Linked DNA regions of Homo sapiens: regions 2, 3 and 4 are each linked to region 1. Evidence: fine-mapped expression QTL. A gene starts in region 1. Each other region holds a variant in brackets. All regions are shown on one strand. Distances are between the middles of the regions.

What was found.
Region 2: its variant is fine-mapped to the expression of XKR3 in whole blood (Lepik 2017, PIP 0.95).
Region 3: its variant is fine-mapped to the expression of XKR3 in whole blood (INTERVAL, PIP above 0.99).
Region 4: its variant is fine-mapped to the expression of XKR3 in whole blood (INTERVAL, PIP above 0.99).

What each region holds. Positions count from the first base shown.
Region 1 is chr22:16,821,531-16,829,639 of GRCh38, reverse strand. It overlaps XKR3 (XK related 3), which reads left to right and starts at 4,229. Exons shown (of 4, transcript NM_001386955.1): 1 at 4,229-4,349. It also overlaps the pseudogene HSFY1P1.
Region 2 is chr22:16,645,293-16,653,401 of GRCh38, reverse strand. It overlaps the pseudogene TPTEP1 and the pseudogene SLC25A15P5. Among named protein-coding and RNA genes, the nearest start is that of CCT8L2, 57 kb to the right of the region's middle. The variant C/T (reference allele first, on the strand shown) is at 4,357.
Region 3 is chr22:16,780,008-16,788,116 of GRCh38, reverse strand. XKR3 (XK related 3) reads left to right here. Exons shown (of 4, transcript NM_001386955.1): 4 at 3,708-4,637. The coding sequence ends at 4,498. Among named protein-coding and RNA genes, the nearest start is that of LINC01665, 36 kb to the right of the region's middle. The variant T/C (reference allele first, on the strand shown) is at 4,103.
Region 4 is chr22:16,702,787-16,710,895 of GRCh38, reverse strand. It overlaps the pseudogene VWFP1. Among named protein-coding and RNA genes, the nearest start is that of LINC01665, 42 kb to the left of the region's middle. The variant C/T (reference allele first, on the strand shown) is at 4,209.

The DNA.
Region 1 (8,109 bases):
GATCTCACCAGATGCAGCCCCTTGGACTTTCCAGCCTTCAGAATAATGAGCAAAATAAGTCACCTTACAAATTACCCAGTCAGTGGTATTGTGTTGTCGCAGCAGCAAATGGACTAAAACACTCTATTATTTCTTCCTCTTTAGATAATTAAATAAACTAGCTTACAAAGGGCCATGTCAAATTTCCCATCAAATGATAAAAAAGCACATATTTTTTTTTAAATGCGGTACAGTAGCCTGCCACTAAAACAAAGCCCCATTTTACTCCTAACTGTATTTTTAGAAATAAAGGAAAAGCAACCATAAAGGTCAACATGTAATTTTATTGTTCAGTAAGATTATTGCAGGAATTTTTAATGTTCTTGTCAACATAAATTTCAGTCTCTGTTGTCATGCATAATCTGGTACTCTTTTGGTGGAAGATCAGTTGTAACTAGGGTGATATTTTTCCAGTAAAGATGGTTGAAGAGCTGGCCTGTAACGAAAGGCAACTGATGTATCAGCTGTCGCAGTCATTTACAACCACAGGTTGCCTGCTGGTAGCAGGTTAGAATGAGGAGCCTCATTGGCTAATACCTCAGGATATCTGGTGGGAAAAAGTAGGTGGTTTCACTATCAGCCCCAAAGGAGGGAGATATGATGTAGTATTGAGAAGCTGTGGTTGTAACAAAATTCACAACGTGGCCATTTGCTTACATGTCGGTGCTATGAGAGTGCATATGAATATTTGTCAATTGATTTAAAATAGCATGTTGATTTGTTGTAATTTGTTCTGATTGTCCAACTGAGGTTGAAATGGAAGAGGAGGGAAACCACTTCTAATTGGGTCAGGTGAACCAGCAATGCCCTGGCTGACAGAAGATTTCCTTGTTAGAGTCATATTTAAATTTGTAGATGTTGAAAATGAACTTTCTTCACTAGTTTCAGCAGCTAAGACAGAATTATGTTTATCTGTGTTAGCCCCTGCTCTAAAGTGTTTCTTGAAATATTCAGTGAAGTAGATACAAGAGAAGTGTTTTTAATCTTAATTCTTCTTTTCGTTCTTATTAAAAGTTGGGGACAGCCACGTTTGAAATTCGGATGATAATACAACTTTAACTAAAACCAAGGAGAAGGTAATTCAGTGCCATTTTAAACCAAGAGGCAAGTAACAATAACAAACATAACCCATACAATCTCAGATTTCTGTTTTATCACACAAAGTTAATATCATCAAATAATGAATGAACATTGTTTACTATTTTTAAGAACATGCTTGTTGAGAAAAAAAAACACTCAAGTTTTGAAGCCCTCTGGTGAAAACATGTTATACATTTAATAGTAACATTTCACTAAGTGGCTTTGGTATCTTTATTTGGAGTTCACTGGTAAGACTGAATGTTGTTAGCAACATTTCTTAAAACCTGAAAGTTTAATGCTCAACCTGCACTCAATAATTTCAAAAAAATTAAGTAATTTTTACCTTAATATTTGATATAATTTTTAAAATCTGATCTTACTGCATGTATTAACATAGTTACTGATATATAAAATGAAATTACATATATACTCAAAGTGGTAACTGAAATATTTTGAATACCTTGCTTAAAACAGAAATTTCTTTTTCTTCTGCCAGAAAGTTGGCTAGAAAAGCAGATCTGTGAAAATTCTGTTGAATTTTACTAAATCCATAAAGGTTGAGCTGTCAAATTAAGATTTTCATACTGTCAGTTTGAAATATTCTGTAAGGAGCCTTTATTTCCAAATTTTCTTTCTTGAAGAGTTCTTCATTAGTCACTATGCAAGTTTCATTCTTATCCTATGAATTAGACTTGAATTGGTCACTTTCAGCTATTTTCCAAAGTTTACTGGGAAAGGTCAGAGAAGGAAAATCATTATCTTTATCTGGCTCAGAGACATAAAGTATAATGTGGCCTTTTTATCAAGGATCCTTGTGGCAAAACCTGAAAATCATTGATTCAGTCATTGACCTTAAGTCTGAATCCCCAGGGATTATGTGTTCACACAATGGAGACCCAGAGGAGGCTTTTGAACCAGTTGATTCATCTTTAGGAGAAACATCTTGAGTTTCTGCAGAAACATGTGCCATCTCAAATAAGTAATTCTTTAGCGACTTTTCCAGCCTGCATGTGTTTCAAGACTGCAGCTTCAAATGCTGCTTCAGTAGTCTACTCAGGTAAAGTAATTGAGATCACCACAGTGGTTTCCAACCTGAGTAGCAATGGCATCACAAGAGGACTTTGGTCACCTAGCAACAAACATAAAAATTTGGCCAAGACTGTTTACTTTCCAGTCTCAGAAATGTATCTGGTAAAAATAAAATATAGAATGATTACTTACACAGTTTATTCTGCAAAAGTTTCATGCCTGCAGAATCTTTTAAATTAATAAGGAGGGCCAGGCATGGTGGCTCATGCCTGCAATCCCAGCGCTTTGGGAGGCCGGGACAGGCGGATCATGAGGTCATGAGTTCGAGACCAGCCTGACCACCATGGTGACACCCTGTCTCTACTAAAAATACAAAAATTAGCCAGGTGTGGTCCATGTGCCTGTAGTCCCAGGTCTCGGGAGGCTGAGGCAGAAGAATCGTTTGAACCCAGGAGGCGGAAGCTGCAGTGAGCTGAGATTGTGCCACTGCACTCCAGCCTGGGCAACAGAGCAAGACTCTGTCTTAAGAAAATAATAAATAAATAAATAAATAAATAAATAAATAAATTAATTAATATCCTCAATCCCTGAAATAAACATAATTTTCTCCTTGACACACACAGTCTTACTAGATTGGTGCGAGGAGCATAGGGCCTGGTAATTGGACGGTGCAAAAAAATAAAAATAAATATTTTAAAAACTCTCTCAGCTTGGCATGTTGGATTGAAAACTGATGCAGTGTAAAACATATATGGTAAAAAGACATGGCCATATAGACAAAAGGTAGGTTAATGGTTGTCAGGGGCTGGGGAATAGAAAGAACTGTTAAGTAGATAATGGGGTTTCCTGTTTGATGATAGAAATGTTTTAATAATATAATTTTGAATAATGTAATTTTGTATTATGTGAAACATACCTTAAAAAATTAAAATAAAATCAAATATGAATAAAACTGATTAGATTTCAGAATAAAAAGTTATTCATGTATGTATCTATTCAAAACATTTTTTATTCATATCATAGAATAAATAATACTTTCATTTGGTATGTCTGTAAATATCTGACATGTTAATTATGTAAGATTTTAAAAGCAAGTGACCTACTTATAAGGAGATCCCAAAGAGTGGGAGATTTAAAAATGTAATAATAACAAGAAAGTGTTTTAAGTAAAGTAAATTTGTATGTATGTCTAAGCAGAAAATTTTATTATTTGGTTCCAAGAGCCAAATATCTATTTAAAAAATATTTCTTAAGGAATAATCTCTGTGTCCTGCAACGTAAAGTTATCATTATAAAACAGGAGTCAAATTTGTGAATTAATCTTAGAATTGAATAAAATATTTCTTCTCTTTGAAAAATAATCATGCCCCATTTACAGTAAGAATTTTTATATGTTCATGCTTGAGAGGTGGTATATTAAAATTCTAATGCCTTGGCTTTAAGTGTTGAATATGTGTGGAATAAAAAAATAATGATTTTGATATTTCTTATACTGTAGGAGGCAGTTCTCTCATACTGGAAAGAGGTGTCATTGTTAGAAGCTTGTCTTGGTTTAACATAGTTTAAGTTTTGGGGGTGTATTTTGTTTAGTTCAAAATTTTCCATATTAGCAGTAAGTAACAAAAATGTCCAGATCAGAAAACTCTTTGTGAAAATAAAACAGGTGCTCCTACCAGATGTGGTTCATCAATTTTGACAGAATTTTCATTTAAAAAAGGCAAAATTAAAATTTGTTTAATTGTTTGCTTTCTGGGGAATTTTCTTGTTGCTCTGTCTGAAGGAAGTACAGACTTCTTTTGTGATGGGAGGGGATGAATGGCTACTAGACAGCAGCAAAAGATGGGCCATGGGTGCGAAGAGAAGAGGGAGTTAATGGGAGAATCAGAAAAATATCACCTTAAATGTAGGACAATCGAAGTCAAATTGTGGCTGAGCGTTTTGGGGAACTAAGATGTGTGACTCTGTAGGGAGGAAGAATGCCTTGGTGTTTTCAAGGGAAGATGACTCAGCTAGTGCAGTCACCTGACTCCAAACTGCAAGCCTACTTTAGTCATAAAAAGGCAAGAAAATAAGCAATTTTACCTGCAAAGCAAAGGACGTAGTGTTGAAAACGAGACCAGAAATGGTGCTGTTAAAGAGGTGAACAAAAGCATTTACTTTTTGAACGAGTTTCAAAACTGTGAGGGTGGCAAATAGGCAAGGTAAGTAGGAGCAGCCCTCGACCATCTCAGATCAGCTTCTTCAGCCTACCTTGACCTCTGCCTGTCTCAGCTGGGGATCTTAACATAAATCTCTGGATATCAGGGGTGGCTTTTCCCGAGTCTTGAGCCTAGAAACTCCCTCTCTTGATTCTGATTTTCAGAGAAGAGAAGCAGCTGCTTAGCATTTGGGTGGGACAGTGGTTGTTACTAATATATTACAAATTTCAGCATGTTTTTAAACATCAGAAGGAGAAAGTGCTTCGTATTTAAGTGAAATCTCAAAGGGGCAGAAATCTACCATATTTTTTGTTATTCAGATGCAGTGATGCACTGGCTATGTGAGTACAAGAAACAAGTTCACTTAATCACAAACACATGCCTAAATTCCATTGTTCAGTGACTTCACTTTCACTTTCTACCTTGAATTTTAGACTCTGGAAGACCCATTTCTAAACTCTGTGGCCCTTTTCATATGTGCATATTTTCATAAGTGTTTTCCAGAAATAAATTATAGAGGTCCTTCTGTGAGTCCAAAGGAGAAGGAAGTGGTTGGGGCAGCCAGAAAGGTGCAATCTGCATTAATATCATATTCGATGTATGGATTGCTGGGGAGAGAGTGGGATATATTTCTTATAATGTTGGATGTATTTTTCCCCTATCCTGAGGCCCAGAAACTCTGATGTCTCTGCAGTTGTCTTTCCATGCTTTCCTTTATACCCCTCGCCTACTTCTGTAATTTCTCTCTCTACTCTCCCTCCTCCTTCCCACCCTTTTTCTTTCCATTTGTGCTCTCTCCCTCCATTCCTTCTTTTTCCCTTTTCTTTCTTTTTGTGGGTATCTGGTAGCTGCAACTTATTTTCTTTCTGCTTTTCTTACTCACTTACTCTATTTACTAGGTATTTAACAATTGTCTTTAAAAGTAACATCCTTTCTTTCTTAAAATTTTATCCCTAATGGACATTATTTGGGGAAAAACATTTTTATGGTGCCTCTAGATAAGTAATTATATCATCTGCACATGATTCCCGTATTTTCTTACATGCCCGTTCCTCGTAGGTGGAAATGGGTACTTCATTGTACTCTTCTCTCTTTATTTACAAGAGTGTTTTTTCTGTCTCATCCCTTTAAATAACACATTGTCTCTCTTTTTGTGACATTGAATTAATTAGGTCAGATGCGATTTTTCTCATCTATTCATTTGAAGACTGTTTCATATTGCTTCTAGGGCCTATTTGCAAGCAACAAATTATTTTGTTGTTGTTGTTGTTTTGTTTTGTTTTTTAATTTTTGGACCATTTGTCTCATCACTCCAACAAGCAAGAATTAGTTCTCATCATTAAGATCCCTTCAAGATTTCATTCACTTGTTTCAGCAGCCTTGAATTATCATCACCTGGACCTGTTGTTACATCAAGAATCTCTCATTTCTAATGTTCTACTTTGGACACTGTTACCTGTGAGTTTGTTTACATTAAAAAAAAAAAACCTTTTAGTACTTGAGTACCCTAAAGTTTCATATTTTGAATTGGTGTCAGATTTATTATTATTGATCTCTCCATTGCTGGAGAAAACTAAGCAATAGGTAAACTCTATTCTTTTGGTAATTTGTATTTTCTGAATGTTTCACAGTAAATGTTTACTAGTCTTGTGATGCTGCAAATTGGCAATCAGATATATTTTAAAGTGACAAGGTTGCCCTGTTCATCACCAGTTCTGTACATCACGCAGATCAAAAGTAAGGTGTTTAAGTTTATTTTAAATGTTTTTCCCAAAAATTCTGCTTCCACCACTTTTCCAAGCTCTACCAGATGGATACTCAAGAATTGACCAAGGCAATCTCTTCTCTCATATTTCACTGTCAAATACTCTTAATCAGTGAGTCCTGTCAATTCTGTGTTTCTAAGAAATGATGATGGTGGTCATGATTATAATGATGTCAATAGGAACACCTTTCCAAACTTCACTGTGTACCACGAACTCTTCTTCCTGCTGCCGATGTATTATTTTCTCTACACTGCTATCTCCCCAGGAAGATTCTAATGATGTTATCATTGTACAGATGTGGAAACTGTAGCTTATGAGGTTTTAATTTTGCAATTCAAGGAAATGACAGGATTCTGGCAGTGTGGTAGCTCATGCTTGTAATCCCAACACTGGAAGGCTGAGGCAGGTGGATCACTTTAGCTCATGAGTTTGAGACCAGGAAGATGGTCAAACCCCATCTCCTCAAAAAACACAAAAATTAGTGTACATGGTGGCATGCACCTGTGGTCCCAGCTACTTGGGAGGCTAAGGCAGGAGGATCATTTGAGTCCTGGAGGTTGAGGCTTCAGTGAGTCTAGGTCACGCCACTGCACTCCAACCTGGGTGACAAGGGCAGATCATGTCTTAAAAAATAAACAAATAAATACCCACCACAACCAAAAGCAAAGGAAGCAAGCATAATAAGCTAGTTAATATGCTTGTTAGCAATGTGGACATTTATTTTATAGTTAAAAGAAAAAAATAGAAGTGACAGTATTGTAACTCAGAAAGTCTGGTTCCAGAGTTTGTACTGCTAACCAGAACAACTTGAGCATCAGTTGATATTTTCCATTTTTTTTGCTCTACTTTGTCTGATATTAATATAGCCATTCCAGCAGTCTTATCACTAGGGTTAGTAGTGCACAGCTTTATTCCATCTCTTCCGTAGTAATTGTGTCTTTATGTCAAGTATGGGTTTCCAGGAGACAACATATAACTGGATTTTACTATTTTTATTTCTCTTATAGGCTTTACCTTTTAGTTGTGGTATATAAGCCATTTACAGTTAATGTGCTGATTGATGTAGCTTTCTGTTTTCTCCATGTGTTACTTGTTCCATTTTCTCTTATCTGTCTTCTTTTCTATTATTTATTTATTTTTTTAATTTCCTATTATGGCCTTTGTTGGTTTCTTAGCTGTTACTGTTACTTTAGTTCTTGCTTTGAGGTTTGTAGTGTACATCTCAAATTTACCACAACCTACCTTGAAGAGGTATTACACTTCTCTATGGACAATGTTAAAACACTAAAATAACATGTACCATTATCCCCTCTCAGCCTCTGTGCTACATGCATTTTTAAAATTATATAACCACAATATTTTATTATTTCAACAGTCAATTGCATTTTTCAAAGATTTGATTAAAGAAAAAAGTCTAAAATTAACATACAAAATTGCCATTTTCAGTTTTTGTCATTTTATAAGATCTATTATATCTTTGTGGCACCTATCACAGCCATTTGATAAATTAATTTGTAGATACAGTAAGAATGTCATGTATTTATTAAAGTTTTTAATAGTGATTTTAAAATTTCTTATTAGGTGGCAAAAAATAATAAAAATAAATGCCCAGAACGAGTATGTTATAAAACTAAACTGTAACTCCATGTAACAGCTATAGCATAGTTTGTTTGAACTGAAATTCACATAAAATAATCATATTGAAGTCCAAAAAATTTAAAGATGTAGTGTAAATTCAATTTATATGAAATTGAAGCACGAGGTTTCCTAGATACCTGCTGCCTACAGAGTTAGAATCTAATTCTTCTGATTATTCTTGTAACAAAATCTTTTGAAATTCTAAATTCTGATGCAGAACGTATCAGTGAAACTCCCTCCCACTGTCTCTTGTATTAGCATCAAGGAAGCGAGAAAAAATAAGGTAAAAAAAAATTCTGCTGTGTTTATTTTTTTACCTTCGAAATCTTGCTGAGTATTACTGTTCAACAAATGAAAAA
Region 2 (8,109 bases), 180 kb after region 1:
TGGGATTACAGGCATAAGCCACAGCACCTGGCCTGTTGTTGTTTTAGAGATGGTCTCAATCTGTCTCCCAGGCTGGAGTGCGGTGGTGCGATCATACCCCACTGCAGCCTCAAACTCCTGGGATCAAAGAATAGTCCCACCTCAGCCTCCTAATTGAGACTATAGGCATGTGCCACCACACCCAGGTAATTTTGGGGTGTACTTTTTGTAGAGATGGGGTCTTGCTATGCTGCCTAGGCTGGTCTTGAATTCCTGGCCTCAAGCAATCCTCCCACCTCAGCCTCTTAATGTGTTGGGATTACTTGTGTGAGCCTCTGCACCCAGCCAGTGTTTCAGAGCTTTAAGGTGATGAGAGATGCTTCTGGATGGTCCTGGGAGCCTGTGTCCTTCTCACATTCAGGAGTCCAGTGGAAAGCTGGCTCAGCTGGACTGAGCAAGCTGAGAAGAAACATGGTCTTTTGTAGGGGATCTGTCAGGGTGGTGGGAGAAATTATAAAAATTAAGTTGTAGGAGATAGACACAAAACTTCTTGGAAGGCTGGGAGGTTTGCATACCTTCAGTAAAAGATTTGGCTGAAGGCAGCTGAATTCTCTTAAAAGCTTAGGGCGTAGATACATAGGAATGTAGAGAAGTTTATCTAAATAGCTTGTTTACTCATGTGGTCCTAAAACAGACCTTTGATCATTTGCGGGCGCATGACTGCTCTCTACTCAGGAGGTCAGCAATGTTAATTACCCTCTAGTGGTGTGGTGTTTACTTGAGAACTTTGTCATTAAATCTGTACTGAATAAATGCCTGGAGCCCCAGCCTGACAGGGCTGTGCCTGGTGACTCTTTATAGCACCTGCTGACTCTTTATAGCACCCTCCTCAGTGTCTGGGAGCTGCCCAGTCCCCTACCCCATTCTTTCACAGGATACCTGTGTCTGAGTGCATTTCTTCATCCATCACGCAGCCAGGGTCTGCAGGTTGGACCCAGCAAGTTATTGACAGAGTTTGAAAATTATACAGGATTGGTTGTTGAGTTGGATATTTTAGTCAACATTTATTAAGCCCATGCCTCAGCAGTAGTTGACTTTTGTCTAAAGGGAGAGAAAGAAATTCTAGTTTTCCCAAACGTCCAAGGCTCCAAACAAAACATACTGAATTAAGATTTCCAGAAGAAAGTCCTGGCAACTTGGATATTTAATAGGTGCTCCAGGTTATCAAGCACATTGGAACACAATGGCCCAGGTGCTGTATCTCAAAATGTGAGTCTGTGGACTGGCATTGTCTGCCTCACTCGGGAACTCAACAAGAGACGCAGAATCTCTGGTCCTGTTTGAGACTATTGAATCAGAAGCTGCATTTTATTTAGCAAGGCCCCCAGGTGACTCCTATGCATGTTTATAGTTGAAGGGCTAGTGGAGTGTGGTGACAGGAACATATTTGGTGCTTGTTCAGGGCCTTGTTTTAAGAACCCATGATGCTTGTGCCCAGTGGAGCAACCCATCAGTCCAATTGTTGGGAGAAAAGCTGAGGCAAGACTTGCTAGTCTGACATAATATGAAAAGAGCCTTGGAACATGTCCTGGGTCCAGAGTTTAAAACTTCTTGTGGCCTATGGAACACCAGGTTCTGTGCTTAAGGGTGGAAGGCTGCCCCGCCGCACTACAACCTAAGCCTAGGGCATAAAACCCCTCATGGCTTGGATGGAATCCAGGACTCAGGACATAAAACCCCTCGTGGCCTCTGGAATGTGTCCAGACTTGCTGGCTCCTTGCTTCTTGCTCTCCCAGGATCATAAACTGATTGTACCTTGAGGCAGAAGGAAATGTTCATTATCTCGAGTAGCAGAACATGTTCCATATGCTTCAAAGAAAATGCTAGACCGACACAGCTATAAACTAAACACTTGATGTGACTGCTTCCTTTTGACCAGCACGTCCTCACCACCTGCTTCTTTGTTTAATCTCCAATAAATGGTGTGGGCTCCCAGAGTTCAGGGCCTTCACAGCCTCTATACTAGCATTGGCCCCCTGGACCCACTTTGTGTACTATTAGCTTGTCTCATTCCTTTGACTCTGCCGGACTTTGTAGCCCCCATGGCCTGGTGTTGGGTTTGATCACCTCAACACCAATGTGGCTATTTGTGACTGCCTTTGTTTTATAATATTTTTATTATTCACTTTGTACAGATGAAGACTTCCAGCTGTAGAGGCCAAAGGGGCCACACTGCAGGTAGAGCAGGCATTCACCAAGGCGTTTGTGATCCTGGGGTGCAGCTCCCACCCTTGGCTGCCTGGGTGCTTCTTTCCAGACCTACTGTCTTGTGACGTTCCCTTAGGCACGCAGCACAGGCTGCTTTCTGATTTAGAAGTGAGCCTGTTCAGTTGATGGCTCAGCGCAGGCCTCTAAAAAAGCAAGCCTGATGTGGGTTAGTACATCTGTGGTTGACTTATTTGGTGTTCATTTTTTCAGTTTTCAGAAAGGTCAGTTGAAGTGCTGCTGGTGGCTGTAGAATTGATACGCAGGGGAGGTTTTTGATCTGTGAGCTTTCTAAGGGACAATTGCTAAGCTGCACTGATTCCTTGAGCCCCTTTCCTTTGGAACAATGTAGAGCCCAGTTCATGGCTCCCAGAAGTTTAGGTCCAGTAATTTGGCTGCAGGCCTAGAGAATGGGAGGCTGCAGACTTGGACTAATGGTGAACTCTTGCCTCCCCCCAGGGATATGTGGTGCCTGTCATAAGCTCCAGAGAGCTGCCTTCCATGAGACCAGAAGAGTGGGCAAACATGAAGTCCAATCCCCCTATCCAGGCTGCCATTGACCTCATGGCAGGGGCTGCAGTTACAGTCCTGTGCCTCATAACCATGTTTCTGTTGGTGATGGATGGTGTATCGGATGGTGGTCCCATGAAATTATACCATCTTTTACTATACCTTTTCTGTGTTTATATACGTTTAGATACACAAATACCACTGTGTTACAGTTGCCTACAGTATCCAGTACAGTAACATGCTGTACAGGTGTGTAGCCTTGAGCAACAGGCCATACTGTACAGCCTAGGTGTGGAGTAGGCTATGCCATCTAGGGTCGGGTGTGTATGCTCTATGATAGCACAATGATGAAATTGTGTAATGACAGATTTTTCAGAACATGTCCCAGTCGTTAAGAAATGCCTAAGTATAATCCCAGAGAAAACCCAGTCTTCTCTATTCCTCAAGTACCTTCTAAATGAGATCAAATAAAAGTGGTAGGAAAACATTACCTTTCTCCCTCTAGAAGTGATGGGCTTTACCTTTGGGATGAATCCATTTGATGGAAGTGTGGCATTGTTCAGAGTGTGGCAGAAGGTAGAGAAGTGTCCATTATTGCTAACACCTTGTGAGTCAGGGTGAGGGGAGGAATGTGCCCAGTGCAGCTGGAAAACAGCTCAGAGGTGAAGCCCCTTGTCCATTGTCACCTGGCTGTGATAGGCAGGTGACATCGTTCTTCATTTCAAGCCTGGCAGTCTTCAGAGCCCTTGTAGTGCAAAAATAACACCATAGCATCTCCCAGGAAACATCACTTACTGTCCCTGCTAGTGTTGGGAAAGAAAGGAGGACACTCTTTAGAAATGTCTTTTACAATGAGACTGATAGTGGACTGTGTCTTACAGCCATGAAAGGAAAGGAGAAGTTGTAGGATTTCCTGGGAATGTCAGCTAACCTGAGCCTAGGGGCCTGAGCCCAAGGGCAGACTGAGGCTCCCCCAGCACAGGGAGGTGCTGCCTGTGACAAGGGGGTAGTGCTGGCACAGTGCAGGCTACTCCCTAGAAAGATCAGCTTGAATATGCAGGAAGAGCAGGACCCTCGGGCTGAGGCACAGGTGGAATGGGAAGTGCATGGTGGTAATTTAGTTCTCCAGAGGCCAGAAGTAGGAGGAGCAGTTGGAATGCTGATGGCCCAAAGGGAAACCCTGGACTACCCTGGCCTCCCACAGTAATTGTGGCTCCCTGCAGTGGGGAGGCCAGAAAGAGTGTTGCCCAATGCTGTCCTCATCCAGTCCACCCCCCACCCACCACCAACAGATGAGTATGGTCATGAGTGTGGTCACCTCATCAGTCATTTGCTCAGTTGTGAAAAAGAAATTGTTCCGAGAAGAGCAAAGTGTTTTTCCATGAGCCAAAGGTCGGCCAAGGTATGCTAATGAGGAGGACTGGAGACAGCACGTCACAGACACCGAGAAGGAGCACTGGGCAAGGGCACTTCTCCCAGGGCAGAGCCCACAAGGAGCGTCCTGGCACCAGACGCTCATGGAACTGAAGGCTGGCAGGGGTCCGCCCAGTAGTCTCTTGCCCGCTGCGTGCCTTTAGGCTACAGCCTCCCAGGCCCCGTGCC[C/T]CCTCCCCTCCCCTCCCCCATGCCACACTGGGGAGGATGCTGACCCTGAGAGTGGTGCAACCATCTGCCTGCCCCTGGCCACCACCTCTCACCAGCATGTGAATGCTCTTGGGCTCAGTTCTGTATCTGCAGTAGGAGGGTGTTTAGCCACATGAGAGAGTCTCACCTTTTGACATTCTATGTCTTTCAGTCTGTCAAAGATCTAGAACATATTGTGATGGAATTAAAAAGTTTACTTTTGGCTGGGCAAGGTTGCTCAAGCCTGTAATCTCAGCACTTTGGGAGGCTGAGGCGAGTGGATCACTTGAGTTCAGGAGCTCAAGACCAGCCTGGCCAATATGGTAAAACACCGTCCCTACTAAAAATACAAAAATTAGCCAGATGTGGTGGTACACGCCTGTAATCCCAGTTACTCAGGAGGCTGAGGCAGGAGAATTGCTCGAACCCAGAAGGCAGAGGTTGAAGTGAGCGAAGATTGTGCCATTACGCTCCAGCCTGGGTGACAGAGCAAGAATCCACCTAAAAAAAAAAAAAAAAAAAAGAGTTTACCTTTTCATATTTATGTGCATACAGGTATTTGGGTACCACATTTGTAATTTACAGTGAGTTTGAAAGATAGAAATTGTAACAGTATGGTTGGGAGCCAGGTATGTAAGGCAGTTGCCGATGGGCATGTTTTGAACCTGTATTGGGCCCTTATATGTATGATCTCTGTGATCCCATCATTACTGTTCATTTCTTCCAGGAGAGGAATGACACACTTCTCACTTTAATTGCCAGATTATCTCCAATTCTGAATCAGTGGAATATAATTTAATATGATTTTACTATGATTGAGTCATTCTCTCCCAGGTACTGCTGGGCTAGGATAAAATGAGATCTGAATTACATTAAAATAATTAATTATTCCAAGAGAAGAGGTGACAGAATGTTTTAAGTGGGTGTGTAATTTAGATAACCTAGATGCAGATAAGCTGAATAAAGCATTTAATCCAGCACATTCGTATTTTAACTTGATCATCAGCAATGGAAGTTGGAAACCCAATTGCAGCTGCAGGTCCCACACAACTGAATTTGGTTCCGTGTGCATAGCAGTGTTCGCTGGACATGCCTGGAGGTCTGAAGGTGCGCCCTTTTATAGGCAGGAATTCCACCAGGATGGGTATAGCTTGTTTTTTTAAAAGGCTTGGGACTGGATACGATTGCCCAAGAAGACAGTGTAGACAGCGAGGAGGGCTGAGCATGAATGGGATGACCTACCTGCACAAAAAGGGCAGGCAGGAAGGCAGTAAAGAAATGAGCAGGGCCCAAACCAGGAGAGTGTGGCATGCCACAATGGAGACTGAACAGAAACAAAACTACGGGCGACTGTAGTGTTGTTCCCTGTTGAAGGAGAGACACTCTATTACAGAAGACCTGGACTTCAGTTCAGTTCAGTTTCCTTAGCAAAGGACAAAATCAGGGAAGAAAAACTCACTTATGTGAGGCAAACATCGCATGCAGTGGTACCAACCAACTAAACATGATAAGCTACAAAGAACTATGGTTTTCGCTACTCTCAAAACGCTACTGAGATTACCAAGTTTTAAGCTTTTTCAAGATTATTTATAGGTGATTCCCCAACTGGGAAAGTCATTTCTGAATTTCTTCTCTTCTAAAATAGATCTAGAAAAATTAACAAACCTTATTCCAGTAAGAAAGTTTGGGATGTACTGCTTCAGCCCCTGTCCTAAGGAAATTATCAAGCCTGGAGGGTGGGGTGCTATCAACTGCCTGCCAACATGTTACCTTCTGGAATCCAGAAGCTTCCCTGTGCCAGGTGGAGCCACCAATGTGGGGAGGAGAGCACAAAGAGCAGAGAATCCACAGAAACCATACCTGCAGGGAGCAAACACCATCACACCCCACTGCTGTGAATGCAAATGCATTTACCTGTTCTTACCATCTCCCTCAGCATTTTGAATCTATTCTGGGATTAGACAAGCTCCCAGACTTAACTGCTATGTTTAATAAAAACATGGTAAAGGAAGAATCGGGGCTATTAAAATGCTTAAGAATGAGAAAGTTGAAAAAAGAAAAAAAGACGTAGATTGTGTTTGGCCTGTCTTCTCCCCACCGTAAGGGGTTGCCACTCAGCTGGAGGCCTGCTGGTTCATGTGGGCCAGCCCTCGACACCTCAGTGACCAAACAAAATACAACCCTCACTAGAGCTTCTTGTACTTGGCAAGACCCAGGCGTAGACCTGGGCTACCAAACAAAACCTTGTGTTCTTAGAGCCTGGGAACAAGAGCTTTGACAGTTTCCACAAAGAACTCTTCTGCAGCATTAGCATTTCTATTTGCACCTACCTGCAGCCATTACTACATTGACCTCTGGAAATGTCACATCAGCTGTTCTTGAGATAAAATACCATTTGCTATTTTTTTTTTCTCTAGGCCCTGTCCCTTTGATGTTAAGTGGTGGAGGGAGTTGGCGGGATTTGCCTATGGCTTGCGGTATATCCAGTGGATTGTATCAAATCCAGAATTCAAGTTCTTTCCATGTCTGGAAAACCGGCAGGATTTATCAGAACCTTTATAAATGTTGTGAAAAATGAAGGTGAATAAACACCTGTTTTTCCAGCATCTAGTATACATCTTAAAATCTGAGATGTGAACTGCTCTGTTTTGATTGTAAAAGGAAAGAGAACAGTAACACAGCAACTTTGTGTCCCAAATAGAGCACAGATAACTTGTCTATTACTCATAGTAATCCTCCCTTAAATTTGTATAACGTGAAGTTTTACAAAGTACTTATACCTCCCTTATCTAATTCAATCTTCATAACCACCCTGGGCAGTACTAATATTATAAACCAGTCTCCAACCTCAAGGTTGGTGCTCTTGCCACTGCCCAGGTGAAGCTGCAAAGCTGTGGCCACCTCTGTCTCCATGGTTGCATCTGTCTGGCCATCTCAGGCCTCAACGCTGACCCATCCGTGTACTAAGAGTTAACCAAGCATGGAATTGGGGTATGTTACCTGAGCATCAGTCAGTTTCGCCAGGAGACCTGATACTTGTCCTTGTTTCTGTTGGTCTATTTAGGGAAAGCTGGGAATGCGTCCTTCCATGACTTGTTGGTTTTTAGCACACTTGTCTGGATTTGCATGTGTAAATATACCTGTGCTATGCAGTTGTGTGGGTGTCCCCAAAGGAGGGACTGTTGCAGTCTTTACTTGCCCTTTTGTCTTCTAGGAATAATGGCCTTATATTCTGGACTGAAACCTACTATGATTCGAGCATTCCCTGACAATGGAGCACTCTTTTTGGCCTACGAATATACCAGGAAGTTGATTATGAGCCAGTTGGAAGCACACTGAAGTGTCTTGGAGGGCCTGAGCCAAGCACAGGTGTTTGAGGACTACAGTTCATCTCAGGGTTTCTTGTAGTACAAGACCAGTGTGAAGTTATTCTGATTTCTTGGGAATTTTGCTTTTTCGTCTTCCCTTATACCCTACATCTTAAATTGTACGGAAGAACCTCTATTTTGCATCATGTCATTTCTGCCCATAATTGTACTGAAATAGAGAAGTCACTGCTCTTTCCCTTGGTAAAATAGAGAGTGGTCAGTAGCCTTATGCATCTAATTCAAAAGACTGAGTACAGTTCTGTCAGGGCTTTTACATAAACCTCTACTTGCACATGCAATTTGGACAGTTATGTGCTGAGGGAAATACAGTTTGGTTCCATGTTTATTTCAAATATTACCAGAAAAA
Region 3 (8,109 bases), 42 kb after region 1:
ATCTCTTCGAATTCATCAAGATGTGTTTTTTGGCCTAATGTATGATATATCCAGGAAAATGTTCCATGTATGCAGTAAAGAATGTGTATTCTATAACTCTTGGATGGATAGTTCTGTAACTGTTTTGTCCATTTGCCCTACAGTGCATTTTAATCTGATGTTTACTTACTGATTTTCTGTCTGCATGATCTATTCATTTCTGAAAGTAAGGTGCTGAAGTTTTCTATTAGTACCTTGTAGTTTTTTTCTCCCTTTGCATCTATTAATATTTACATTATATATATGCATATAAATATATATGTATATTCCTGATATGATATTTTCTTTTTTATCCTGCTTAATTCTGTATGCTGTCTTTGTCTTTGATATTTGTTGGTTTGATTATATTAAGCCATGGCGATATTATTTGGATTTAATCTTATTGGAAGACTTCAATATTCCTTTACCTGAATATTTATATTTTTATTTAGATTTGGAAAATTTTTTGTTGTTATTTCTCTAAATAGACTTTTTACTTTTTTTTCCTACAATACGCTTATTTTTTTTTTTTTTAATTTGAGACGGAGTTTTGCTCTTGTTGCCTAGGCTGGAGTGCAATGGCGTGATCTTGGCTCAATGCAACCTCCGTGTCCTGGGTTCCGTGATTATCCTGCCTCAGCCTCTTGAGTGGCTGGGATTACAGGCGTCCACCAACCACACCTGACTAATTTTTGTATTTTTAGTAGAGACACAGTTTCACCATGTTGGGCACTCTGCTCTGAAACTCCTGACCACATGTGATCCACCCGCCTCCGCCTCCCAAATAGCTGCGATTACAGGTGTGAGCCATTGCACCCAGCTTTTCCTTGAACACCAGTGACTAATACATTTGTTCTTTGGATGTTATCACATAAATCCTATGAACTTTCTAGATTTCTTTTTTTTTTCTTCTGACTGTATATTTTTAATTGATCTGTCCTTGAGTTTTTCTGCTTGGCCACTTCTGTCAATACTCTCAACTGTATTTTTTTTATTTTATTGTGTTTTTATCTTCAACTTTTTTATTAGTTTTTTCCTCCCATTATTTCAATCTCCTTGCTAAGGTTCTCTGATAAATTTCTGAATTGTTTGTGTTTTCCTTAAGTCCACTACATTGTCTTAAAATAAGTATTTGAATTTTTTGTCAGGCTATGTGTCCATGCCCATCTCTTTCGGGTCACTCACAACTGGCACCTTATTTTGTCCACTTGGTGCCATGATGTTCTCGTCATTGATCCTGATCTTTGTGACTATGCATTGTTATCTGCACAATGATATAGGTGCCTGATTCAGTGTTCATGTCTGGGCTCTGTTTGGAAGCTTCTTTCTACAGTAAGCCTGTCCAGAGATTCAGGGCAAGAAGAAGAAGGAAATTAAGGTCTTTAAGTCTATGATAGCTTCAGCCCTGGTAGAAGTAGGGGGAATCCTAATGCCTAGACTTTGATGGCTGAAGTAATTTGACCACCAAAGCTGACTCAGTGCCAGGTTGCACCTGTAGCCCACAGTAGAGCACTGGATGCACTCAAGGCATGCAGCTGCCATGGTCTTCCCTCTGAGGTTTATTCAGTCAACCAGTAGGAATGTTGACTGGAACTCGACTCCATCCTGCTGAGCCCACAGTTTCTCATCTGTTGTCGGGATGTGTCTAGAAGTTTGCCCCTTGATATCATCCTCCCAAAGTGCTGGGGTGAAGGCACAGAAAAATAAAGACCCAAGTGAAAGTCCTATGTTTTCTTCCTGGGCTCAAGCAATCCTCCCACTGCAGCCTCCTGAATAGCTGGGACTACAGGCATGTGCCACCATGCCTGGCTAAATTTGTGTATTTGTGTGTGTGTGTGTGTGCACGCGTTTTGTAGATACAGGTTTTCACCATGTTGCCCAGGTTGATCTTGAACTCCTGGGCTCTAGTGATCCATTCACCTCAGCCTCCTAAAGGTAGGATTACAGGTATGAGTCACCATACCTGGCCAAATTTTACTTTCGAACATTTAATTTTTAGGTCATTTATTATATTCAGTCTCATTTCTCATAAATGCAGTTACAATGCTAATGTTTTAGAGTTTCACTTTGAGTATTCCTTAAGGAATAAATGGAGTGTTAATATTCATTTTCTAAATGGTGTTAGAAAGTGAATAATAAATTTAGACGAGGAATGACTATTTTGCTATTTGGCCTTTTTTTGTTTTCTGGCTTAAGTTCATTGTGTATGAAGAGTGTTTTTTGTTAGTGTTTATTTGTTTGTTTGTTTTTTGAGATGGAGTCTCGCTCTGTCGCCCAGGCTGGAGTCCAGTGGCGCTATCCTGGTTCACTGCAACCTCTGCCTCCTGGGTTCAAGTAATTGCCCTGCCTCAGCCTCTCGAGTATCTGGGTCTATGCCCGGCTAATTTTTTGTATTTTCAGTAGAGATGGGGTTTCACTGTGTCACCCAGAATGGTCTTGATCTCCTGACCTCTTGATACACCCACCTCAGCATCCCAAAGTGCTGGGATTACAGGTGTGAGCCACTATGCCCAGCTGAAGAGTGTATTTTTTTTTAACCTGCATGTATATGTAAAATGAATTTTTTCTCTTTCAACTGAATGTAGTACAAAAGTGCTTAAACCAATTATTCAACTACTTCATAATTTTGGTTTTCTTCCATGTGCTTATTTGTCTAATTGTTGAGAGAACAATGTTGAAATTAAAATAATTTTGCTTATGAAAAAGTTTCTCATAAAGTTGCATGGATACATACAATCACACACATGCACACACACACTTCTTTTTTTTTGTTTGTTTTTTTGAGATGGAGTCTCGCTCTGTCGCCCAGGCTGGAGTGCAGTGGCACGATCTCAGCTCACTGCAAGCTCCGCCTCCCGGGTTCATGCCGTTCTCCTTCCTCAGCCTCCCGAGTAGCTGGGACTACAAGCTCCCACCACTACGCCCGGCTAATTTTTTGTATTTTTAGTAGAGACTGGGTTTCACCGTGTTAGCCAGGATGGTCTCAATCTCCTGACCTCGTGATCCGCCCGCCTCGGCCTCCTAAAGTGCTGGGATTACAGGCGTGAGCCACCGCGCCCGGCCACACATACTTCTTAATTTCTGTAGCTTTTTATTTTTTTCTGCTTCTCTAGTACCTTGTATTCCATCACTCAGCAGAATCTGTCAGCTCCACTTCCAGGATTTACTTTAACTCCACAGCTTATTTCTTCTTTTCTGTTACCACCATAGTCTAAAACACAGTCTATATTACATTAGTCTCCTATTTCACATGCTAACTTCCTAGTTAACACTCTTAACTTTCTATAAAGAATGGAACTGTCTTTTCAGTGTCTAATTCAGGTATTTTTTTTTAATTGAGACTGCTTTATATGTGCTGTCACACCTTATAGCATCAGATCTGAATGTGTCTCTTCCATTTTATCTGTGCCAGTCTTCTCTTTGAGGGAATGTGTATATACATGTATAAATGTAGATATGTATGTATTTGCTTATTATTTGTTTTTCCAAGGTGTAATATATGTTTTGCATGCCTATACTTACTGTATCCCTGAAAATGGAAGATTAACAAACCTTTCTTTTTATAAGTAAATGATTTTCTAAAGGAGGTGGGTGAGGAAGAATATATCTTAAAATGGCAAGTTTAAAAAAGAAAGTGGTCATTACTAATGAAAAATATTCTCTAACATTTTCATGTTTGTCTTTAATAGCATTGCTGATGACATTTTCCCTGTTATCAGTTACTTATGGGGCCATTCGCTGCAATATACTGGCCATCCAGATCAGCAATGATGATACTACCATTAAGCTACCGCCGATAGAATTCTTCTGTGTCGTGATGTGGCGTTTTTTGGAGGTTATCTCACGTGTAGTGACTCTGGCATTTTTCATTGCATCTCTGAAACTGAAGAGCCTACCCGTTTTGTTAATCATATATTTTGTATCATTGTTGGCACCGTGGCTGGAGTTTTGGAAAAGTGGAGCTCATCTTCCTGGCAACAAAGAAAATAATTCCAATATGGTGGGTACAGTACTGATGCTTTTCTTGATCACACTGCTATATGCTGCCATCAACTTCTCCTGCTGGTCAGCAGTGAAACTGCAG[T/C]TGTCAGATGACAAAATAATTGACGGGAGACAGAGGTGGGGCCATAGAATCCTACACTACAGCTTTCAGTTTTTAGAAAATGTGATAATGATATTGGTATTTAGGTTCTTTGGAGGGAAAACTTTGCTGAATTGTTGTGACTCATTAATTGCCGTGCAGCTCATCATAAGCTACCTATTGGCCACTGGCTTTATGCTCCTCTTCTATCAGTATTTGTACCCATGGCAGTCAGGCAAAGTGTTGCCAGGACGTACTGAAAATCAGCCAGAAGCACCGTACTATTATGTAAACATCGAGAAAACTGAAAAGAATAAAAATAAGCAGCTGAGGAATTACTGTCACTCCTGCAATAGGGTTGGATATTTTTCAATCAGAAAAAGTATGACATGTTCATAAAATATACATATATACTTTCACAGAACAATGAGTAAAGATGCTGAATGTGACTTGTTAAGAGGCTCTTAAATTTAAAAAATATACACAGCAAAATCTTGGAAGTGGTTTCTAATAAAATTCATTTATGTTCTCCTGTGAACGTGCCTTAGTAATTTTTGTTTTCTTAACTATAATTATACAATTCATTAAATAAAACAAAATAAAAAATCCATCTGGATCCAAAAACTGAGCAGGAAAAATAACCGTAATGCATTTTTCACCTAGTACGTTTTTGGAATGCCTTTAACAAGTTTTTGTAGCGTATACATTATCAGTGAACATGTTTTCTTCAGAAAGAGTATTTACCACAGGTTTTATTCTGTACTTAAGGAGAATCTGAAAGGCAAGTCTTATGAGACTGCTCCTATTTATCTTAATTTAGGGTAACTAAGGCATTTCTCATTGAACTTTGACTAACAGAAAGCAACTCATATTAATGCATCTCAAGGCACAAAAACTTTTCAATTAAAAATAAATAATCATGTTAATAATTTGAAATACGAATTTACATTCCTACCAACAGTGCACAAGGATTCTCTTTGCTCTACATTCTCAATAACACTTGTCATCTTTCATCTTCATGATAATAGCTGTTCTAACATTTTGAGAGAAGGTGCATTGTTGGTTTTAATTACCATTTCCCTGATGATTGGTGGTGAAGCATCATTAAATATACAGTTGTTCAAAAATTGGCCAGGCACAGTAGCACACACCTGTAATTCCAGCTACTAGGGAGGCTGAGGCAGGAGAATTGCTTGAACCTAGGTGATGGAGGTTTCAGTGAGCCAAGATCGCACCACTGCACTCCAGCCTGGGTGACAAAGTGAGACTCTGTCTCCAAAAAAATAAATAAATAAATAAATAAATAAATAAATAAATAAATAAATAAGGCCGGGCTTGATGGCTCACGCCTGTAATCCCAGCACTTTGGAAGGCCAAGATGGGCAGGTCATGAGGTCAGGAGATGGAGACCATCCTCACTAACATGAAGAAACCCCGTCTCTACTAAAAATACAATAAAAATTAGCTGGGCGTGTTGGCATGCATCTATAGTCCCAGCTACTCAGGAGGCTGAGGCAGGAGAATCGCTGGAACCTGGGAGGCACAGGTTGTGGGGAGGTGAGATCGCGCCACTGCACTCCAGCGTGGGTGACAGAGTGAGGCTCCATCTCAAAATAAATAAATAAAATAAATGAATAAATAAAATTAAACATAGTTAAACATAGACTTGACCATTTTTGTCTTTTTTTGAGAAATGTAAATTCAGGTCCTTTGCCCATTTTTAATAGGCTTACTTGATTTGTTGTTGTTAAGTGGTGTGAGTTTCTTGTATGTATTTATTATTCACCATTTATCATATATATGATTTGCAGACATTTTCTCCCAGTGTAGGGGTTGTCCCTTCACCCTCTCTGCTAATTGTTTCCTTTGCTGTGCAGAAACTTTCTAGTTTGATGTGATGCAATCCAATTGCTGTTTTTCTTGTGCTTTTGTAGCCTGTGCTTCTGGGGTGATAGAACTGAGGTTTCAAAAATTAAATTAAAAATAGAATTACAACATGGTCCAGCTACTCTACTTCTGAATATGTACTCAAATGATATAAATTCGTATTTCAGAGAGATATTTGCATACCTATATTCATGTCAGCATTATTCACAATAGCCAAGATAAGGAAACAACCCAAGTGCTCATCAACAGATCAGCAGATAAAGCGTGGCACATATACACAATGGAATATACTATACAGCCTTAAAAAAAGAGAAAGTGCTGTTATTTATTTATGATAAAATGAATGGAATTGGAAAACATGCTCAGTGAAATAAGACAGGCACAGAAAAACAAATATAGCATGGTCACAATTACATGTAAAATCTAAAAACGTTGAACTCATAAAAATAGTGAATATGCTAAGTGTGGTGACTCATGTCTGTTATCTCCAGCACTTTGGGAGGATGAGGCGGTTGGATCACTTGAGTTCAGGTGTTTGAGGCCACAGTGAGCCATAGTTGTGCCGCTTCACTCCAGCCTGGGCAACACAGCAAGATCGTGACTCTTTATACAAATACACAGAAAGTAGTCAGAGATTGGAGTGTGGGGTAGTGATAGGAATACATACGGAAGGGATGACATTTGTCAAAGGGTAAAAAATTTCTGTGAGGCCGGAAGTAGTTCTGGTGATCTGTTGCACAGAATGGTGATCACAGTTAAAAAATGTACACTTCAAAATTGCTGAAAAAGGCAGGCATGGTGCCTCATGCCTGTAATCCCAGGACTTTGGGCGGCCATGGCAGGCAGATCACTAGAGGTCAGGGGTTCAAGACCAGCCTGGCCAGCATGGTGAAACACCGTCTCTACGGAAAATACAAGAACTAGCCAGGTTTGGTGGCACACACCTATAGTCACAGCTACTCAGGAAGCTGAGGCAGAAGAATCACTTGAACCCGGACAGTGGAGGTTGCAGTGAGCCAAGCTTGTGCCACTGCACTCCAGCCTGGGCGACAAAAGCGAAACTCCATCTGAAAAAAAAAGTTGGAAAAGTAGAGTTTAAATATTCTCACCACAACGAAATGATAAGTGTGTGAGGTGATGTATATGTTAACTAGCCCAACTTATTTTGCATTGTATACATGTATTATAAAATCACTTTGTGTCCCATAAATCTTTACAATTGTTAATTTAAAATAAAATTTCTGAAAGAATGAATTAAAATTAAACTTGGCTTGATATACGTAGACAGTAATATATGCCTATGTGTCCTTCTATTTTGACTATTTTGCTTCTGTTATTTCTTGGGGAAACAATCACCATGATAAATGAAGAACACTAAAGCTTAATATTGTATAATTCTCATTATTTTGTTGTTTTTGTTTTTCCTCCTACTTTTTTCTACCAAAGCAATGTGGACAATTTTCTTATTCATACTTTCTTTTATGTTTTTTTTTCTGATGAGAAATCACCACCAAAAATTAAGCTCATGTGGATTTGTGTAATTTTTCCTGCTCCTATCTATGACCATCTTTACCTTTACTTTAGATTTTACAGCTTCGTAAAACACTTATTTACTTATTTATTATCTCCCTGTATCATTATTTTTTCTTTTCTTTTCTTTTCTTTTTTTTTTTTTTTGAGAAGGAGTTTCACTCTTGATGTCCAGGCTATAATGCAATGGTGTGATCTAGGCTCACCGCAACCTCTGCCTCCCAGCTTCCCCGGTTCAAGCCATTCTCCTGCCTCAGCCTCCTGAGTAGCTGGGATTGCAGGCATGCGCCACCACGCTCGGCTGATTTTTTGTATTTTTGGTAGAGACAAGGCTTCACTGTATTAGCAAGGATGGTCTTCATCCTTGTGATCCACCCGCCTCAGCCTCCCAAAGGGCTGGGATTACAAGCATGAGCCACTGTGACCAGCCAACTATTCGTTATTAAATGAAAGAGAGAATGGCTCTCATAATAATGATGGACGCAGCCTTGTATGAAATCTTACTAAACAGGCTGAACGCCGCCTAAACATTAAAAAGCAAGGTAAATTTAAGCAAGTTTATATTTTATGCTGTCATTACATTTAATTGGGTT
Region 4 (8,109 bases), 120 kb after region 1:
CATTAATTTTAAATCCTGAGACTTTGCTAAAGTTGCTTATCAGGTTAAGGAATTTTTGGGCTGAGGTGGTGGCATTTTGTAAATATACAATCATGTCGTCTGCAAACAGAGACAATTTGATTTCCTCTCTTCCTATTTGCATACCTTTTATTTCTTTCTCTTGCTTGATTGCCCTGGCCAGAACTTCCAATACTATGTTGAATAAGAGTGGGGAGAGAGGGCATCCTTCTCTTGTGCCAGTTTTCAAAGGGAATGCTTCCAGCTTTTGGCCATTTAGCATGATATTAGCTATGCATTTGTCATAAATAGCTCTTATTATTTTGAGATATGTTTCATCAATACCTAGTTTATTGAGAGTTTTTAGTATGAGGGGTGTTGAATTTTATTGAAGGCCTTTCCTGCATCTATTGAGATAATCATGCGGTTTTTGTCATTGGTTCTGTTTATGTGATGGATTACATTTATTTATTTGTGTATGTTGAACCAGCCTTGCATGCCAGGCATGAAGCCAACTTGATCGTGGTGGATAAGCTTTTTGCTGTGCTGCTGGATTCACTTGCCAATATTTTATTCAGGATTTTCGCATTGATGTTCATCAGCAATATTGGCCTGAAATTTTCTTTTTTTATTGGGTCTCTGCCAGGTTTTGGAATCAGAATGATGCTGGCCTCATAAAATGAGTTAGTCCCTCTTTTTCTATTGTTCAGAATAGTTTTAGAAGGAATGGTACCAGCTCCTCTTTGTACCTCTGGCAGAACTCAGCTGTGAGTACGTCTGGTCCCGGGCTTTTTTTGGTTGGTAGGCTGTAATTACTGACTCAATTTCAGAACTTGTTATTGGTCTATTCAGGGATTTGACTTCTTCCTGGTTTAGTCTTGGGAGGGTGTATGTGTCCAGGAATTTATCTATTTCTTCTAGATTTTCTAGTTTATTTGTGTAGAGGTGTTTACAGTATTCTCTGATAATAGTTTGTATTTCTGTGGCATCAGTGGTGATATCCCCTTTATCATTTTTTAATGTGTCTATTTGATTTTTCTCTCTCTTCTTCCTTATTAATCTAGCTACCGTTCTAACTATTTTGTTAATCTTTTCAAAAAACCCACTCCTAGATTAATTGATTTTTTTGAAGGTTTTTTCGTGTTTCTCTCCCATTCAGTTCTGCTGTGATCTTAGTTATTTCTTGTCTTATGCTAGGTTTTGAATGTGTTTGCCATTGCTTCTTTTGATTGTGATGTTAGGGTGTCGATTTTAGATCTCTCCCACTTTCTGATGTGGGCATTTAATGCTATAAATTTCCCTCTAAACACTGTTTAACCTGTGTCCCAGAGATTCTGGTATGTTGTGTCTTTGTTCTCATTGGTTTCAAAGAACTTATTTATTTCTGCCTTGATTTTGCTATTTACCCAGTAGTCATTCAGAAGCAGGTTGTTCAGTTTCCATGTAGTTGTGCAGTTTTGAGTGAGTTTCTTAATTCTGAGTTCTAATTTGATTACACTGTGGTTTGAGAGATTGTTATGATTTTCATTCTTTTCATTTGCTGAGGAGTGTTTTACTTCCAATTATGTGGTTGATTTTAGAATAAGTGCTATGTGGTGCTGAGAAGAATGTATATTCTGTTGATTTACGGTGGAGAGTTCTGTAGATATCTATTAGGTCTGCTTGGACCAGAGCCGAGTTCAAGTCTGAATATCCTTGTTAATTTCCTGTCTTGTTGATCTGTCTAATATTGATAGTGGGTTGTTAAAGTTTCCCACTATTATTGTGTGGGAGTCTAAGTCTCCTTGTAGGTCTCTAAGAACTCATTTTATGAATCCTGGTGCTCCTGTATTTGGCGCATATATATTTAGGATAGTTAGCTCTTCTTGTTGCATCGATCCCTTTACTACTATGTAATGCCCTTCTTTGTCCTTTTTTATCTTTGTTGGTTTAAAGTCTTTTTTATTAGAGACTAGCTTTTCTTTCTTTCCATTTGCTTGGTAAATATTCCTCCATCCCTTTATTTTGAGCCTATGTGTGTCCTTGCAAGTGAGATGGGTCTCCTTGAATACAGCACACGTATGGGTATTGAGTCTTATCCAATTTGGCAGTCTATGTCTTTTAATTGGGGCATTTAGCCCATTTATATTTACAGTTAATATTGTTATGTGTGAATTTGATCCTGTCATCATGATGCTAGCTGGTTATTTTGCACATTAGTTGAAGCAGTTTCTTCCTAGTTTCATTGGTTTTTATATTTTGGTGTGTTTTTGCAGTGGCTGGTAATGGTTTTTCCTTTCCATATTTAGTGCTTCCTTTAGGAGCTCTTGTAAGGCAGGCCTGATGGTGACCAAATCTCTCAGCATCCGTTTGTCTGTAAAGGATTTTATTTCTCATTCACTTATGAAGCTTAGTTTGGCTGGTTGTGAAATTCCATATGTACATCATGAAAATGAGTGCATGTGATATACATACGTACATACACACACACACACTGCATACTTTCATTTTTATGTCCATTACTTTTCTGATTTCATCATCAGCCAACTAAAGAAAATAGAAAAAAAATTGGTAATTTGATCTTTCATGTTCTGCATCTTCCAGCTTCACACTTACAGTTTTCTATTTTTATTGTTATTGTGATCAGAATGAAAAAGTATACTATAGAATCAGAATCGGGTCAGAATCAACAAATATACGATAATGTTTGTACATGCTTTCAATGCAGTTTGTCTCTGCAAAGGGTGTGTTTGTATGCACATGTGCATGTACACAAGTGTGTAAATAAGTGTTTTATTCATGATGGAGAAAGACTGGTCAAAATTATTCTGAATGAGGTAGCACCACTACAGCAGATAATTAGGTATCTAGCAATAAAACAAATCATTAAACATGTTTCTAAGTATCTACTCAGTATCTGGCACAATGTTAAGTAGTATAAACATAATCGTAAGCAAAATTCAGCTTCTACCCTCAATGGTATATGTGCAGAACAAATTGGTAAAGCTGGAGTACATTTCAGGACCAAAAACAGTTTCTGTATAGTTCCCACTTCATCAAGACCATGTTATATACTACTCATACACTTAAGCCATAAGGAAGCAATTCTTCCATCCACCCTTTTACAGGGTAGTGGTGGGGAAGAAGAGCTGACTGTCATGCTTGAATTCACATAATTTCATAATTAAATAATTTCATGTTACATAATCTCAATAAACCTAAAATCCAATATATGATAAAGGTAGTGTTTCAAATCAGTTGGTAAGTGATAAATGGTTCATAAAATGGTGTTCAGATAATTGGCTATATGTATTTTATAGTTGCACAAAGGTATAATATGTCATTCATAATACTAATTCCAGAGTGGATGTCAAATACACTTTTTTCAAAATATAAAGAAAAAATACCATAGACAAATATCATTTGCAACGTGACAGTTAAAATTAAATATCTAAACATAGCACTAACCAATAACAGAAAATTTAAAAAAAAATATTCATGGATTGGAATTTGTTAAAATATAAAACTTTTCTATTTCAGAGGATACCATGAATATGTGTAAAAAGCAAATATCAAGTCAGCAGCAAGTGTTTGCAATTCACTTGACATATTTAACATATGAGTAGTTCCAACAAATCATAAATAAATGATTAGTAGTCCAATAAAAAAAGACAAAGTACATTGACAGGAAACTGTATGAAACTCATGAACACTAAATGTATTAGATTCTCTATTGTTAAAAAAATGCAAAAACAATAGAGAGCATTATTGATATGGAGTTAATATTTTAACAAAATTATTAATTTTATCCATGTTATAAGTAAATATATACATCCAAAAACCCTTATTTTCTCTGAAAGTTGTCACTTATGAGTCTATTTTGAAAATGTTTAAAGAATAGTAATTAATTAACTTTAATAAATAGGTATTCCTATTGAGGGAAAACAGACATTTCCATAATTTTTCTTCTGTTTCTAATATAGTAGATGGTAGGAAAATAATGACAAATGCATGTTCATACCTGGATAATATGCATTCCATTAGTTCTTTTAAACTTTTGCATTCTCAAAACTATATTGATCCCTCAAAGCGTACCCTTTGTTGTTGAAAGCAGCCTTTCGAGCATAAAGACACACACATCACTTTCCTTAAATCTTATATAAGGCAAGGGCGTAGATGCCTATCAGAAAATGTATTTCAAGAATGCTTTTTTAGTAGTTCCTGTGGCTTAT[C/T]TTATAGAGGAAGGTTTTTTTTTTTTAAAAAAAATACACACAGTTTTTGATGCACATTTTTATTGGAAAGAGCTTTTATTTCCTTAAATGTTTTGTTGTCTAAGTGTGAAAAGTATCCTGCAGTGGAATTTAGTGGAACAGATGCTTATTGTGATAGATGAGATGAACTTGCTTCCCCAAGCATGCATGGGCATGAAATGCATCTGGCTTCTGTACATAAAAGTCAGTTATGTTCCCAAATGTGTTTCTGCATTTACACAGACATTTAGGGGCAGACACCCTACTATTCCCTCAAAAGGCGACTCTGCTTAATTATGAAGTTCAAGTTAGACCAGAAGTTGGAAAATACTAAATTCCACATTGCAGACAGAGCCTGAGCAGGTGATGTCACCACTGCATACTAAGGTGGCAAGTCCTCAGAGAAGTCACTTATCACCTTACCATGGAGAAAAATAACTGTGTCCAGAACCCAAGAGGATGCTGTAAAGTAGCGTACAATCAAGTGTGCAAACCTGTGCAATATATACCAGATGAAATCCAGTTCAGAGGAGGAAATAAGGGTAGGCTCAGGAAAACAAATAAATGAGGATATGCTTTAAAAAGTAGGACTTCATATAAACAGTCATGAGAGTAAAGACTATTGCTAAGCACATAGGAAACACAAACCAGGCTTTCAGGAAGGAGTTTGGCACATGTATGCACTGGTAGGAGGTGTAATGTGCAGAAATCCGGCCTTTTGTGGCATAGCAACTAAAGTTCCTTTTCTATCGTCCAGATAACCTTAAATATTCCCTTATAAAGTAATATCTTAAAAGGCCATCTACTGTGCACAGTGTGTTAGCATCAAGGACATGAAATTTATCTGGAATATACCAAAACTTTAATCAATAGACTAGGACCAAAGCTTTTAAAAATAGTTTTTTTTTTAGATAAGTCATTATAATTTATTATTTCCTTGCCATAGGTAAGGCATGATACATAACTTTACTTTTTTCTCAGTTACTTAGTGTGTAGGTAGAATAATGACCCTTAGTAGGATGACCTTTTGAATATGTTGTTAGGCAGCATGGGAGCATTATGGTTGCAGGTGGAATTAAGATTGCTAATCACCTGACCTTAAAATGGAGAGATTATCCTGAATTATCTAGGTGGGCCCACTGTAGTCACAAAGAACCTTCAAACAGGAAGGCCGAAAGACCAGAGTGAGTAGAAGAGCTTGGGGAAACTGGAGCAAGATAGAATACATTTTTTCTCTTTGTCTCAACATCAGGGCTCTAAGTATATTGTAAAAGTATAGCACCTTTTCTTCTCCAGGCCAAATATTTCCAGTTTTTTCTGTAGTTTTTTTTTTGTTTTATTATTATTTTTAGTTGACATTTAACTGTATGTATTTACTGGTGACAGTGTGATATTTCAATACATGTATACAGTGTGTAATGATCAAATCAGGGTAGTTAGTATATCTCTTCCCTCAAACATTTACCATTTCTTTGTGTTGGGAACATTCAAAGTCTGCTCTTCCAGCTACTTGAAAATATACAATAAACTGTTGATAATTATAGTCACCCTGTGGTGCTACAGAACACTAGAACTTATCCCTCCTCTTTGTGTAGTTTTCACTTGTTTCTCACTCATTCATAACTACTTTTTCAGAACTTGTTGCATGTTGCACTCCATGATGGGTGAACATGGAGACAGGTGAGACATATCTTCCTGGTTACATTTATGATAGAGCAGAATTCTGCCCAGCCTGGTCTGAACAGGCTGCGGTTCTCCAGGCAAGGGGACTCACCTGCCCAGAGGCAGGCAGTTCTATAACGTTCCCTCCTTGGACCCCTACACCTCCATTGGTGGAGCAGTGTACCTGGCTCCTCTCTCTGCTTCTACGCTTGTTGGGGACAGCGATAGTTCCCACCAGTGATCTCAGGGCCAAGGCTGCCTGATTCCCACTTCTGCCCTTGGCTGACTATGTGACATGGGCATGTTGCCTCTCTTTGTTTCCATAGCTTCAAATAAAATGGGGCCAGCAAGGAAGCTCAGGAATAGGGCTTGGCAATGGCAAGGCTTTGCTGCTCACCTCGGGCCTCCTCTGAGTCTCTGTCCCGCTCCTCCTCCTCTCCCTCGAATGCCCTCTGCCTCCATTGCCGCCAGGAACGTTCCCCTTTCCCCTGAGCCAGAGAGCATGCCCCTGGGCTTGACGGTGCTCATCCCTCAACTTGTCTCTCAAGGAGAAAGTGTGTGGCCTGTGTGGGAATTTTGATGGCATCCAGAACAGTGACCTCACCAGCAGCAACCTCCAAGTGGAGGAAGACCCTGTGGACTTTGGGAACTCCTGGAAAGTGAGCTCGCAGTCTGCTGACACCAGAAAACTACGTCTGGGTCTCTGTGTGGACAGAGCCCGAGAGCTTGCTTCCTGGAATGTCCCTCTGTCCCCATTCTTATGGGGGCTGGAAGGGGGGTTGTGGGTGGTATGACCTTCAGGTGGCTGCAGGGTGGGAAGGAGGGTCTCTTGGATCCTTCTGGGCTGAATAACCCCAGTTTGACCAGCTGACGGCTGGCCTATCTCTTGCCTGGTTCCCAGGTGCCTCTGGACTCATCCCCTGCCACCTGCCATAACAACATCATGAAGCAGACGATGGTGGATTCCTCCTGTAGAATCCTTACCAGTGACGTCTTCCAGGACTGCAACAAGCTGGTGAGGACCTTGAGGGTAGTGGGAAGCAGATGGTCCCAAGGCTTGGCCCAGTGGTATGGACACAGAGTGTGACCTTCTAACGTGGACACTACCCTTGTGTCTTGACATGATCTGCACCAAGACACCACTTTAGCTTTTTTTTCTTGGCTTTCAATCTGGGAAACAAAAAGTAAAATCAACAGTTTCTAGGGGAAGCAATGCCTGGCAAAACATTTCCTTCTGCATGAGAAGTAACTCCCCTTGGCATGTGCCAACGTTTCTCTTTCGGCCCCAGTCTTAGGATTTGTTCTCTTATGGAAGTATCTTGTTTTCAACACCAGAGCCAGAGATTTCCTTTTCCTGTCACTGCTGCATTTGTCCAGACCAAAAGACCGTCCTCTCCCACTCCTCAAAACCCCTTGGTGCCCATTTCTTGTCTCACAGAAATTCTTTTCTGGCCTTACTTTTGGTGATTTTGAGTCCTCGTATTATGACTTATTTTTGTGTCTTCATCTCTAATGACAAGGAGGAACTCCCCAGGGTTAAGTGCAGTTGTCTCTCTTCTTTTTTTTTGAGACAGAGTCTCGCTCTGTCACTCAGGCTGGAGTGCAATGGCATGATCTTGGCTTAGTGCAGCCTCTGCTTCCCGGGTTCAAGCGATTCTCCTGCCTCAACCTCCCGAGTAGCTGGGATTACAGGTACCCGCCACCACACCCAGCTAATTTTTGTATTTTTAGTAGAGACGAGGTTTCACCACGTTGGTCAGGCTGGCCTCGAACTCCTGACCTCAGGTGATCTACCCACCTGAGCCTCCCAAAGTGCTGGGATTACAGGTGTAAGCCACCATGCCCGACCATAGTGCGGTTGTCTCTTATCTGCTGCATGTATGTGTGTACACACATGTGGACATGGGCTTGTACATGGACATATGTGACTACAGAAGTCTATGTACACACACACAGCCATGCACACATACATGTTGCTGTGTAGCACCACCAATGTGGGAGAGACTGGTTGAAAACATGGATCTCAATTCTCTTTCTATCTATGCAGTGATTTTCAGTCTCTGAGGACTCCAAAGGATACTTACATTCCCGGTTTGGTGGAAATCCTGGGCATCTGAGTTGGAAGAGTGAGGACAGGGGAGGAGCTGGGGACATTGGGACTGTTGGAACGTCTTGGAAACAATGACCCACTCAGTGTCTGAATTCATTTTCTGTCATAACT